Regions from separate parts of the Homo sapiens genome. Here region 1 is linked to region 2. The links come from fine-mapping of genetic effects on gene expression. A gene starts in region 2. The other region holds a variant in brackets. All regions are shown on one strand. Distances are from middle to middle. Region 1 overlaps INTS13 (integrator complex subunit 13). Region 2 holds the start of INTS13 (integrator complex subunit 13).

Evidence for each region. PIP is the estimated chance that this variant, and not a neighbour inherited with it, causes the effect. A credible set is the group of variants that fine-mapping cannot tell apart.
Region 1: its variant is the best candidate, but not a certain one, in a credible set for the expression of INTS13 in whole blood (INTERVAL, PIP 0.86).

The regions. Positions count from the first base shown.
Region 1 is chr12:26,910,279-26,915,278 of GRCh38, forward strand. It overlaps INTS13 (integrator complex subunit 13), which reads right to left. Exons shown (of 17, transcript NM_018164.3): 12 at 4,130-4,300; 13 at 3,696-3,850; 14 at 3,179-3,409; 15 at 900-1,039. Among named protein-coding and RNA genes, the nearest start is that of INTS13, 25 kb to the right of the region's middle. The variant CT/C (reference allele first, on the strand shown) is at 2,453.
Region 2 is chr12:26,935,296-26,940,755 of GRCh38, forward strand. INTS13 (integrator complex subunit 13) reads right to left here and starts at 2,686. Exons shown (of 17, transcript NM_018164.3): 1 at 2,501-2,686; 2 at 1,284-1,519. The coding sequence starts at 1,508. FGFR1OP2 (FGFR1 oncogene partner 2) reads left to right here and starts at 3,175. Exons shown (of 7, transcript NM_015633.3): 1 at 3,175-3,415. RefSeq lists enhancers at 2,991-3,500, 3,229-3,278, 3,501-4,009 and a silencer at 3,539-3,608.

The sequences.
Region 1 (5,000 bases), 25 kb before region 2:
AACATAAACAGATTCAAGTTTACATATTTAAAATTTCTTAAAACACAAACTTTATATGCTTATTTTCCAAAGGCTTCATTAATGAAAGTATAACACTACTTGTTTTTGTTTTTAACACTGACAAATATATTTACTGCCTGTATTCTCTAAGGCTGTGATACGGTTTGGCTGTGTCCCCACCCAAATTTCCATGCTGTTCTCGTGATAGTGAGTGAGTTCTCACTAGATCTGATAGTTTTATAAGGGGCTTCCTCTCCCTTTGCTCTGCCCTTCCCCTGGCTGCTGCCATGTGAAGAAGGACATGTTTGCTTCTCCTTCTGCCATGCCTGTAAGTTTCCTGAGGCCTCCCAGCCATGCTGGAACTGTGAGTCAATTAAACCTCTTTCCTTTAAAAATTACCCAGTCTTGGGTATTTTTATCTTTATTAGCAGCATAAGACTGGACTAATACAGGTTGTAAACAGAGAATGTCCTAAACAACACCCACAAATACTTAAGAACTCTTCCTCACATACACAACAATATTAAATAACACTGTACAAAACAGAGCTTCATTGGAAAATTTTTTTTTTTTCTGAAACAGAGTCTTGCTCTGTCGCCCAGGCTGAAGTGCAATGGTGCGATCTTGGCTCACTGCAACCTCCGCCTCCCAGGTGCAAGCGACTCTCTAGCCTCAGCCTCCCAAGTAGCTGGGATTACAGGTGTGTGTCACCATGCCCGCCTAATTTTGTATTTTTATTAGAGGTGGGGTTTCACCATGCTGGCCAGGCTGGTCTTGAATTCCTGACCTCAGGTGATCTGCTTGCCTCAGCCTCCCAAAGTGCTGGGATTACAGGGGTAAGCCACCACACCCGGCCTGGAAAACTTTTTATAAACCTAGTTACCACAGCTGTACCTTACCTTTTGATTTTTCCACTTGTGGAGTTTCATCCATTTCAACAAGGGGTTTTTTGTTTGGAGGTTCTGGGGAATCAGGCGAATCTTTTATAATCTCAGCTTCAGCCAATTCTTCTTTTCCACGCTCTAAGATTCCTTTTAATCTTTTAGAGGGACAAATAATGAAATGTAAAGTTCAAATTTTTAGAAGTCTAATGGTCTAATAATTAAACTAACTTTGCATATCAACCTTTATAAAAGATGGCTAATCTCATAAAATAAACCTAGGGACTAATCAAAAATCTCAATCTAAAACCAGGTAACAGAAATTAATGAATTAAATACAAGTTTCCCTTTTCCTTCATAATAATAATGCAATGATTCAGGAATTAGCTGTAAAATATAAAAAAAAAGAAGATACTTAAATTAAAATTTAAAAGGTAGGAAATGATGTGATCTTCAGAAGAAATTGCACAATTCTGATTTTTAAAGATAGGAACAAAATAACACTGAATTTCAAATTACAAATAAGATTAATAAGTTTATTCCCATTTATTCTCTAGTCTATGTATTGTGTAGATGTATTTATGTTCTGCAAATCAGAAACTTAACTCTAAACTTTTAGAGTTTCATCAGAGAACAAAAACACTTGCAAAATATACAAGAGTGTACTTGAAGCTCAGTGGGACCTAAATGATAGTACTTTTTCCCTCTTACAGTGAGCCAGTAGTGTTTCAGAAGCTCAGCAGCCCTAAGGAAAACATGAGCTTCTAAAGTCAAAGAGAATAAAAGTATTCTATTATTAATGGATACAATTACAGGATTTCCAGAATTAGCTTCAAAATATTCCTATGGGTGTAGTGGTAAAGGTAGTGGATGAAGATATATATGAAATGAGATCTGCCATGAATTGTTAATCATTGAAGGTAGATGATGAGTAACTATCTGTTCTTTTGCTACATATGTTTGAAATTTTCCATCATAAAAAGATGTGTTTTTCGTCAGTCGCAGTGGCTCATGCCTGTAATCCCAAGCACTTTGGGAGACCAAGATGGGCAGATCGCCTGAGGTCAGGAGATCGAGACCAGCCTGGGCAACATGGTGAAACTCCATCTCTACTACAAATACAAAAAATTGGCCAGGCATGGTGGCACATACCTATAATCCCAGCTACCTGAGAGGCTAAGGCATGAGAATCACTTGAACCCAGGAGGCAGAGGCTGCAGTGAGTCGAGATCATGCCACTGCATTCCAGCCTGGGTGATAGAGCGAGACTCTGTCTCAAAAAAATAAATAAAAATTAATTAATTTTAAAAAAAGTGACCTGGTGTTGGTCTGATTTCTGGCAAGTGGATAGAGGATATAGCCAGAGGATACGCTATTTCTATTTATAAGCCTTTATTACTTTTATGTTTTTCAGATTTAACGCTGACATCATAATATAAATCACAAACTAAAGGAAAAGAGTATACTATTAAGAAACATTTTCAGAATAGACTGTATGCCCTTCTTCTGTGCTTCCAAGGACATCCTATGCCTATTTTTATAATAGCACCTTCCACACTTTGCTGCAATCA[CT/C]TTTTTTTTTTTTTGAGACAAAGTCTTACTCTATTGCCCAGGCTGGAGTGCAGTGGAGGAATCTCGGCTCACAGCAACCTCTGCCTCCCAGGTTCACGTGATTCTCGTGCCTCAGCCCCTTGAGTAGCTGAGATTACAGGCATGCACCCCCATACCCAGCTGATTTTTGTATTTTTTTAAGTAGAGACAGGATTTTGCCATGTTGGCCAGGCTGGTCTCAAACTCCTGACCTCAAGTGATCCACCCGCCTCGGCCTCCCAAAGTGCTGGGATTACAGGTGTGAACCACTGCACCCAGCCTGCAATCACTAATTTGTCTGTCTCTAGCATCACACTGTATGTTCTTCAAGGGTAGGGATCTTGTGCCAAATGCCTGGCACATCATAAGCATTCAGTAAATATTTAGTGAACAGAGGAATAAAATTATGTCTGTGAAGTTCACAACACATAAAGCACATACTGATACCAAACATCATGCATTATGATTTTCAGAAGTTAATTAGGAAAAACTAACACTAACTTTGCCCCAACAGTAAAAATTCATACTTTTTTGTGCCCAAGAAAGATCCTCTAGATTTTAAGAATGATAAAATTACAGTAATGAAAATGAATAAACATGTATTAAATGAACTACTATTAAATCAGGTTTGAATGTATGAAAGTGTTCTATGCAGAATGTGATATAACAAAAGGCACCATGGTGCTATATCAATGCCAGGAAGTCACCTCTCTGAGTCTTGCCAAGACTTTTCCTGTTCATAATCTTTCACTGCTTTCTCTGACTTGTCCTCTTTGTCTTCCCTCTTTCTTCCTCGTTTCTTTCGTTCTTCCTCTTCTGGGGGTTTGCTCCTGCATGCCATCAGACATTCCAAGACTCTTTGATGTTTCTCTGAGTTGTTGATATGGGCTCTGACAAGGGTTTCTAATTCATTCCACATGATACGGTATTGTTCATCTCTGCAGCAAAGATTTGGAAATACTCTTTAAATAATATTGAAGTGTCACTTTCTAGTGGTAAAGTAAAAACAAATAATGAAATGTGGACTTCCTTCCTCTTACTTGGTACTTAATAGTGAAATTCTAGGCTACAATATATCCATTTCTATGATTTTGTATTATTTCATCTCAAATATATATATAAACATGTCCTCAAATAGAATTTACATATGGAATAAGTTATCTTGAGAAACAATATGTATCAAGTAAATGTGATCTATAAAGTAAGAAAGAAAAAAAAATGTACCTTTTAGGGCCCTTTCCTCTTGTACCAACTGTGGAAATAGGTAGAGGATCATTTTTTCTTTCCATATCAACTAAGTTGTATATTGTTTTTTGACAGTTTAACACATCTTCTTCTGTCAGAGATTCTTTCACAATAACACTGGCTAATGGAACTACCTGTTAGATTTTTTTTAAAGAAAAAAGAAAATCTGTCTTGAAAAATAAATATCAAAACATCTAGGCAGAACTTGATTTTCGAAAGGATTTTAAAGATTATCATGGTGAAGGAATCTATAACTATCACTTCAATTTTTAATTATTAATTCTTTAACTTTAGCAAGCTCATATATTTCATTCTTTGCTTAAGAAATGGTATAAATTACAAATTGTCTAATTGATTTCTATAAAGAATATATAACTAATCTATAAGAAAAGTTGAAGCTACTTAACACTTACCGCTTGCATGTTAAAAATGGTGGTTTGTGAAATGATCATAGGCCAGTAACGGGTATGTTTTTCTAACTGATCTTTTGCTCGTTCCAAAGGGACCTCAAGACTTCCATCGATTTTATATCTGGGGTCTAGAAAAGGAGTTAATCTGTTTTCCCTCATAAATTCACCAAAATCCTAATGATAACCAAATAAGATAAAATTAGAAACTATGTCTAATGTTTCAGTATGGATTACATGTACTAGTCTGTTTCCCTGATGTCTTCTGTCCTGTGATGTGCAACAAAACATTTTTTCTAACAGTATCCCTTAACTCCACTACTTTTTTATCCTTTCTGAACTTGAAACCTATCAGCCTTTATATGATGAAAATGAAGAAAGCCTCAAACATAAATGCATTCATGGTATGTTTTCCCCACCTTTTGTAAAAACCAAGGAACACTTTTTTTCCCCTTCTGTAATTTAACTTTTCTATCACACACAGATAAAAGAGTCAGTTAATCACATTAGAAGACCCATTTGCTTATTTAAAAACTACCTTGAGGTTGGGCACGGTGGCTCACACCTGTAATCCCAACACTTCAGGAGGCCAAGACAGGTGGATCACCTGAGGTCAGGAGTTCGAGACCAGCCTGGCCAACATGGTGAAACCCCATCTTTACTAAAATACAAAAATTAGCTGGGCATGGTGGCAGGCGCCTATAATCTTAGCTACTCGGGAAGCTGAGGCAGGAGAATCGCCTAAACCCAGGAGGCAGAGGTTGCAGTGAGCCAAGATTGCGCCACTGCACTCTAACCTGGGCAACAAGAGCGAAACTCTGTCTCAAAACAAACAAACAAACAAAAAAACTACCTTGACATAACATAAACATGTCAA
Region 2 (5,460 bases):
TTTGGAAAACTTATCAAATGATGATTCTGACCCATGTTCCTTTTTGGCTAGAGGGTTAGATTTCTTTCTTTACTCTGGACAACACGATCTAATCTATGATCTTTTTCCCTATATATCGATGAAATACCAGTTTTCCTTCCTCCCCCAAGAAGTTTGATAATTGGTCTTCTCTTCCAAGGCTTATCTGACAGGGATATATTTTACAAGTCACTTTACGTAGATTTATCTCTTTTAAAGCTTACATCGAGGAAGTAAGTGTTATACTTACACGGGAGGAAACTGAGGCTTGGAGAGATTAAGAAATATGATCAAAGTCACACAGCTAGTAGTTAACCACGCCAAGGTCTGAACCGAAGCCTGCGCTCCAAATCAGTTACATTCCCTCTCATTATATATTTTTATCACACACAGAATGCACACAAATTTTAAGAAGGGCTTATATTTTAATTTGGAATATATGTGAATGTATAATATCAGACTATGTTCACCTTTACTCTACTGCCCTACCTTCCTCAGTCTAAGAATTGGCTAGGTCCCAGCGCTTCGAGTAAGACAGAAAGCAAGTCTTCCACTTGTGGCTAAACAAATGACTTTCCCAAAATAAGACATTTAAGATACTGAAATCTAAGATTAAACTTTAATACCTGTAATTTCTGTCAATCATCCATTTCTCTTCTTACTGATAAACCATATCCACTTAGCATTCTTAAAAGTATTTCTTTCTAATATGGCCAAACAATACAGCAGTTTAGTATATATTTGCTAAAATTGCAAGCAGCTAGCCAGCTTAGGTTCAAATTCTGGCTCTGCCTCTACGTAACTATGTGACTCAGGACAAGTTTCTTCTCTTTACCTCAGTTTCCGGATCTGCAACAGGGAAGCAACAAACAAGACTGACAGTCAGCTGCTACATGCCAGCACAGTTTGACAGCAGCTCTCAATGGTCAGTCTGTGTTCTATACTGGTTGTTACATACTTTGAATATTGCTTCAATAACTACAGTTCCTACCTAACATGACTGTTATGAGAATTACGGAAATTAATAAATATGAAGCACTTTGAAATATGTCTGGCACATGTAAAGTGCTCAATAATTGTTAGCTGTTATTATTACTGGCCCCAATTAAATATCCATTATATATTAATCCCAAAGGGCAGCGTTATGTACCACATTTTTAAGTAATAAACACACAGTCATTATCTATAGCAAATTCATATAAAAATTCATTTATGCAGTTAAGTACATCCCCAAAATCATGATTTTGTTTGTACTTCACACTCACCAGCTTTTTGAAAGGAAATATATCATACATTATTCTACAATATTCCATGGAAGATTCTACTGAGCAAGTCCACAATGATTTAGATATGGGGGCCAAAGGAATGATTCCTTGGGTTCTATTCTTCACCAGCATATCAAACTCGACATGCTGCCTGCAAGATTCTGCCATATAAGGGCAGTGATCCACAACAAACACTGTTTTATGAGATTCAGAAAAAATCTTCATTTTGTTTTAACCTGTAAGGGGAAAAACATATTAGCCAAATATTTGTACATAACATCTTACATTTTTTCTAATTTTCTCAAGAAGATTGTCTTTCCCTCAAGAAGACTTGGTAGGGAACATGAATAATATGTTCAAAGAAATCTGTCCGACAAAGGACAGTTTAATGAGGTCATGACCAGAAAGCAAGGGTATCAATACACCATATTAGGCTGTCACTCTACCAGGCCCAGACAAAAATACCAGTGCATGCATTTTTGGTTTTGCTTTTAAAATGAACTTAAAATTGTCAGAGGGAAACATTTTGACATTTAATTGTATTTGATTCCCTTACATATACGAAACATAAGTGACAAAGACTCTTGAAATACAACTTTATGATCCTTGCTAATTGACATTAGTCACATATAAACCCCAAGCCAGCATTTTTGCACTTCCCTCCAAGAAAAACGTTTGAAGGGGGACTGGCGGGTAGGGGTGCGGAATTAACAGGAAAGAGGAGTGACAGCAAAAGAAAAGGCCAAAACAAAGATAAACATCTCCTAAGATAACCGCACATCAGGTCTTCGCCTTAGGATAAGGACCCCAACTTCACACTCTCCCCTTAGCTTTTGAAACATCACAGTAATTTACCAGGTAGAGCAGAAAAACTTAGTTGTTACCATCACACTGGTGTGTAGAAGGAAATTTAAAACTTTTAAAACTTTTTCTTATTAAAACAGAGCATACGGTACTCCCCTGCTTCGCTAACAAAATCTTATACTGAATAGACAATCCACATTCGAAAAGCACATGGCAAGCAAAGCCAAAGTGTTAAATCAAAACGAACTGATTTCTTACGATCCAGCTATTTTCACCTCTTGCTTTCAAGACGCATCTCCCCTTCATGCAAAACTCTCTTTGAGAAACCTTCTAGACCCACTTTGCTGGAGGGTGGGGGGTGGAAAATACAAGGTGAGTGGATAGGGAAGACCTCAGGATCGAGGTTCGCTTACTTTCGTGCCTGGTCCTGCAGTGAAAACGAACAGAGGCTATGGACCACAGCCTCTCTGGAAAAGGCTGCTGGCTGGGCGGGGAGAGTCAGCGCACAGTCGGGAGTGTCTGGTGCCACAGACAGGGGACTATGCTTTCCCCGATCATCTCCTAGCACACCGGTCCTTCCCAGGCTTCCTAAGAGCAGGAGCGCGCGTGCGCGTGCACACACACACACGCACTCGGGCTCGCGCGTGCGCACAGCGCTCTCCGATAGCCCGGCCAAGCCTCCCTTCCCCCTCGTAGGGCCAGGCGTCCCAGTCGCCGAACAGGAAGAGGGCGGGGCCAAGGAGGAAAAAAAAAGCCTCCACCCCTCGAGATTTTCCACCCGCTAATTTTCCCAGTCACCCATTGGGAAGCAGGATCTGGGCGACCTGAAAGCCTCCCCAACAGCGAAGTACCAACCACGGCCCCCTAAGCGTACGACCCACCCACCCGGTCTCCCCTTCTCTGTCTCTCCACCCAGGCCGGTTTCCCCTGGAAAAACTCGCGAGACTTTGCGAGAGGCCGAGCGAAAGCCTGGGAAGGGAGGAATAGGGAGGGACATAGAAGGGCCCCGCCCTGCCTTCTGGGGCAAAGCGGAGAGTGGTCGGTTCTGCCCCACAGTAACGCGAGGAAAGAAATCTCGCGAGGCTGGAGTTCTCCGGGAGCGCCGGTCGGAGGCGGTCGGCGGAGGTGTCTACCCCGCCGGTGATGGCGTTGAACGCCACTGGCTTCCCGGCCTTCCGTCCGCTGCCTCCGTCCGATTCTGCGTCTGCTTGCTGAGGAGGCGGATTAGGGGGGCGCGGAGTCTCTTCCCTTGAGTGCATAGGTCCCGGTTGGTAGAGGGTTTGAGTCCGCATCGCCACAGCTGAAGGCTGCGAGGGACTAAGAGCAGAGTAAGTGGACTAAATCCAGGGACGGGAGCAGGGGTGGGCGAGTCGGAGGCGTCCTTTGCCGGGGCAGTCCTTCGCCGGGGCCGGTGCCTTGCGCCTCTTGAACCACCGGCGCCCGGCCCTGTCCGCTTCCCGCCGCGGGCTCCCTGCTCCTGGGAGCCGGACTTCCTCTCCGCGCCCCCCGACTCCGAGCTCCTCTTAATGGAGATGCGGTGCGGAAAGTTCAATGAAAAGCCTTGGCTCTAACCCTGTGGACACACCTTCCGTATCTGCTTTCATCCTGCCTTACCCACCTGCGAGTTCACCACCGGACGGGGGACCCTTTCAGTCACCTGTTTGCAGCGTTTAATGAAGATAACTTGTTTCTTGAAACTGCTCTCCAAGGGGTATTACTCTTTTCTGGTTCTCTTCCTGCCTTTCTTCTCTATCCCATCTCTGATAATGGTTCCAGTATCTGTCCTGCTATCCGAACTAGAAAACCAGGAATCATCATTGGTTCTTCATTTCCACTTAACACTGCACTGTATTATTTTTTTTTTCGCCAGAATTAGTGCGGTTGCCCCCTCTGCCCCCCGCCCTCCACTGGTTTCCCTACTATAATCCTTCCATAGAGTTATTCTGAAATACATATTTATCTCTGTCCTTTCCTTAAACTTTTTAGTAACCGTATTGCTGACAGCATCAAATCCTAATTGTTAAGCACATCATCATTCAGGATCTTTTACAGTCTGCCCCAATCCATTTTACCTTTTAGTCCTGCTTTAATATCCTACCATACAAGACTATACTGGCTATTTCCCCAAACATGCCATGCGCTTTGACAGCTCTGTACTTTTGTACGTGCGGATGTCTAGGATGTTTACTGTTCCTCTATTTTACCACCTGTCAAAACCCAATTCATAAATCATTGTCTTCTCAGACTCCCCCAGGTGACATTGATACCGCTGTGCTCCCAACGCATTTGAAACTTTTCTTCTGCAGTATTTATTAGGTTGTATTATTTGTTTCTGTCTCTCCTGCCAATTTGAACCTGGGTCTGTCTGGAATCATGTCTTACTCATCTCTGAGAAAAAGTCCAGTACTTGGCACATAGCAAGCATTATTTATATATACATATGTATGTTTATTGAAATGGAATAGTTCTAAGGAATTCACCGTAAGAGTTCTTCATCCTTTAAAATCATAGAATTTTGGGCCAGAAGGAACTCTGTACATTAGCTTAAAGGTCCCGACCTATTTTGATTATGAGAAACCCTGTACTTCTAATACACATGCAATTGGACTTTTAGTAATTGTTGGTTGAAATTATGTATAATGACAGAAAACTACTATGCTTTTAAATGATTTTGTATTTTATTTTTACAGTATCTATTTATATTTGAGAAATGGAGCAGAAATGTTTTAGACTACAGACAGTGCTTGGAGTATGTGCATTCAGGCAACTCTTCTACTGACTCCTTAGCCTGTAGGTTAGAAATAACTGGTTTAGATTAGGTTAGTTCCTTCTTGAACTGTCACAACTCTTTGAACATATGTATGTGAAACTTATATTCAGCCACAATTCTAAGGGAACGTGTAATTTTAAAAAAATCCTCCAGTGTCATTACTTCCAAAATCTTTCTTCCAAGTTTAAAAATTAATTTTCTTCAGAAAGTGTCTTTATACAGTTCCAAACATGTATTCATTCCACTATTTTCAAGGACAGTGAAAATTTTCTTTGCTTTCACATACAGCGATGTGCCTTTATAAATGCTTATTTTTATATGTAATTTATATGCGTTCTTTCTTGCATTCATAAGATTATAAGTTTATATGAAAACCATAACTATACCTTTTGGTTTTTTTATTTCCATATGGGTCAGTTCATATTATGTACTAATTAATATTAGAGACACATACCTGAACATGAAAAAATTTAAACTAGATTGTTGACATTTAAAGACAGATCTGTGGTGTATCAGTAGCCACAATATTTCTGTGTAGATGTAGTGGTAGGAGTAGTGGATTTGCAGATAAGGGAAACAGAAGTGTCCAATCAGTAAACATTC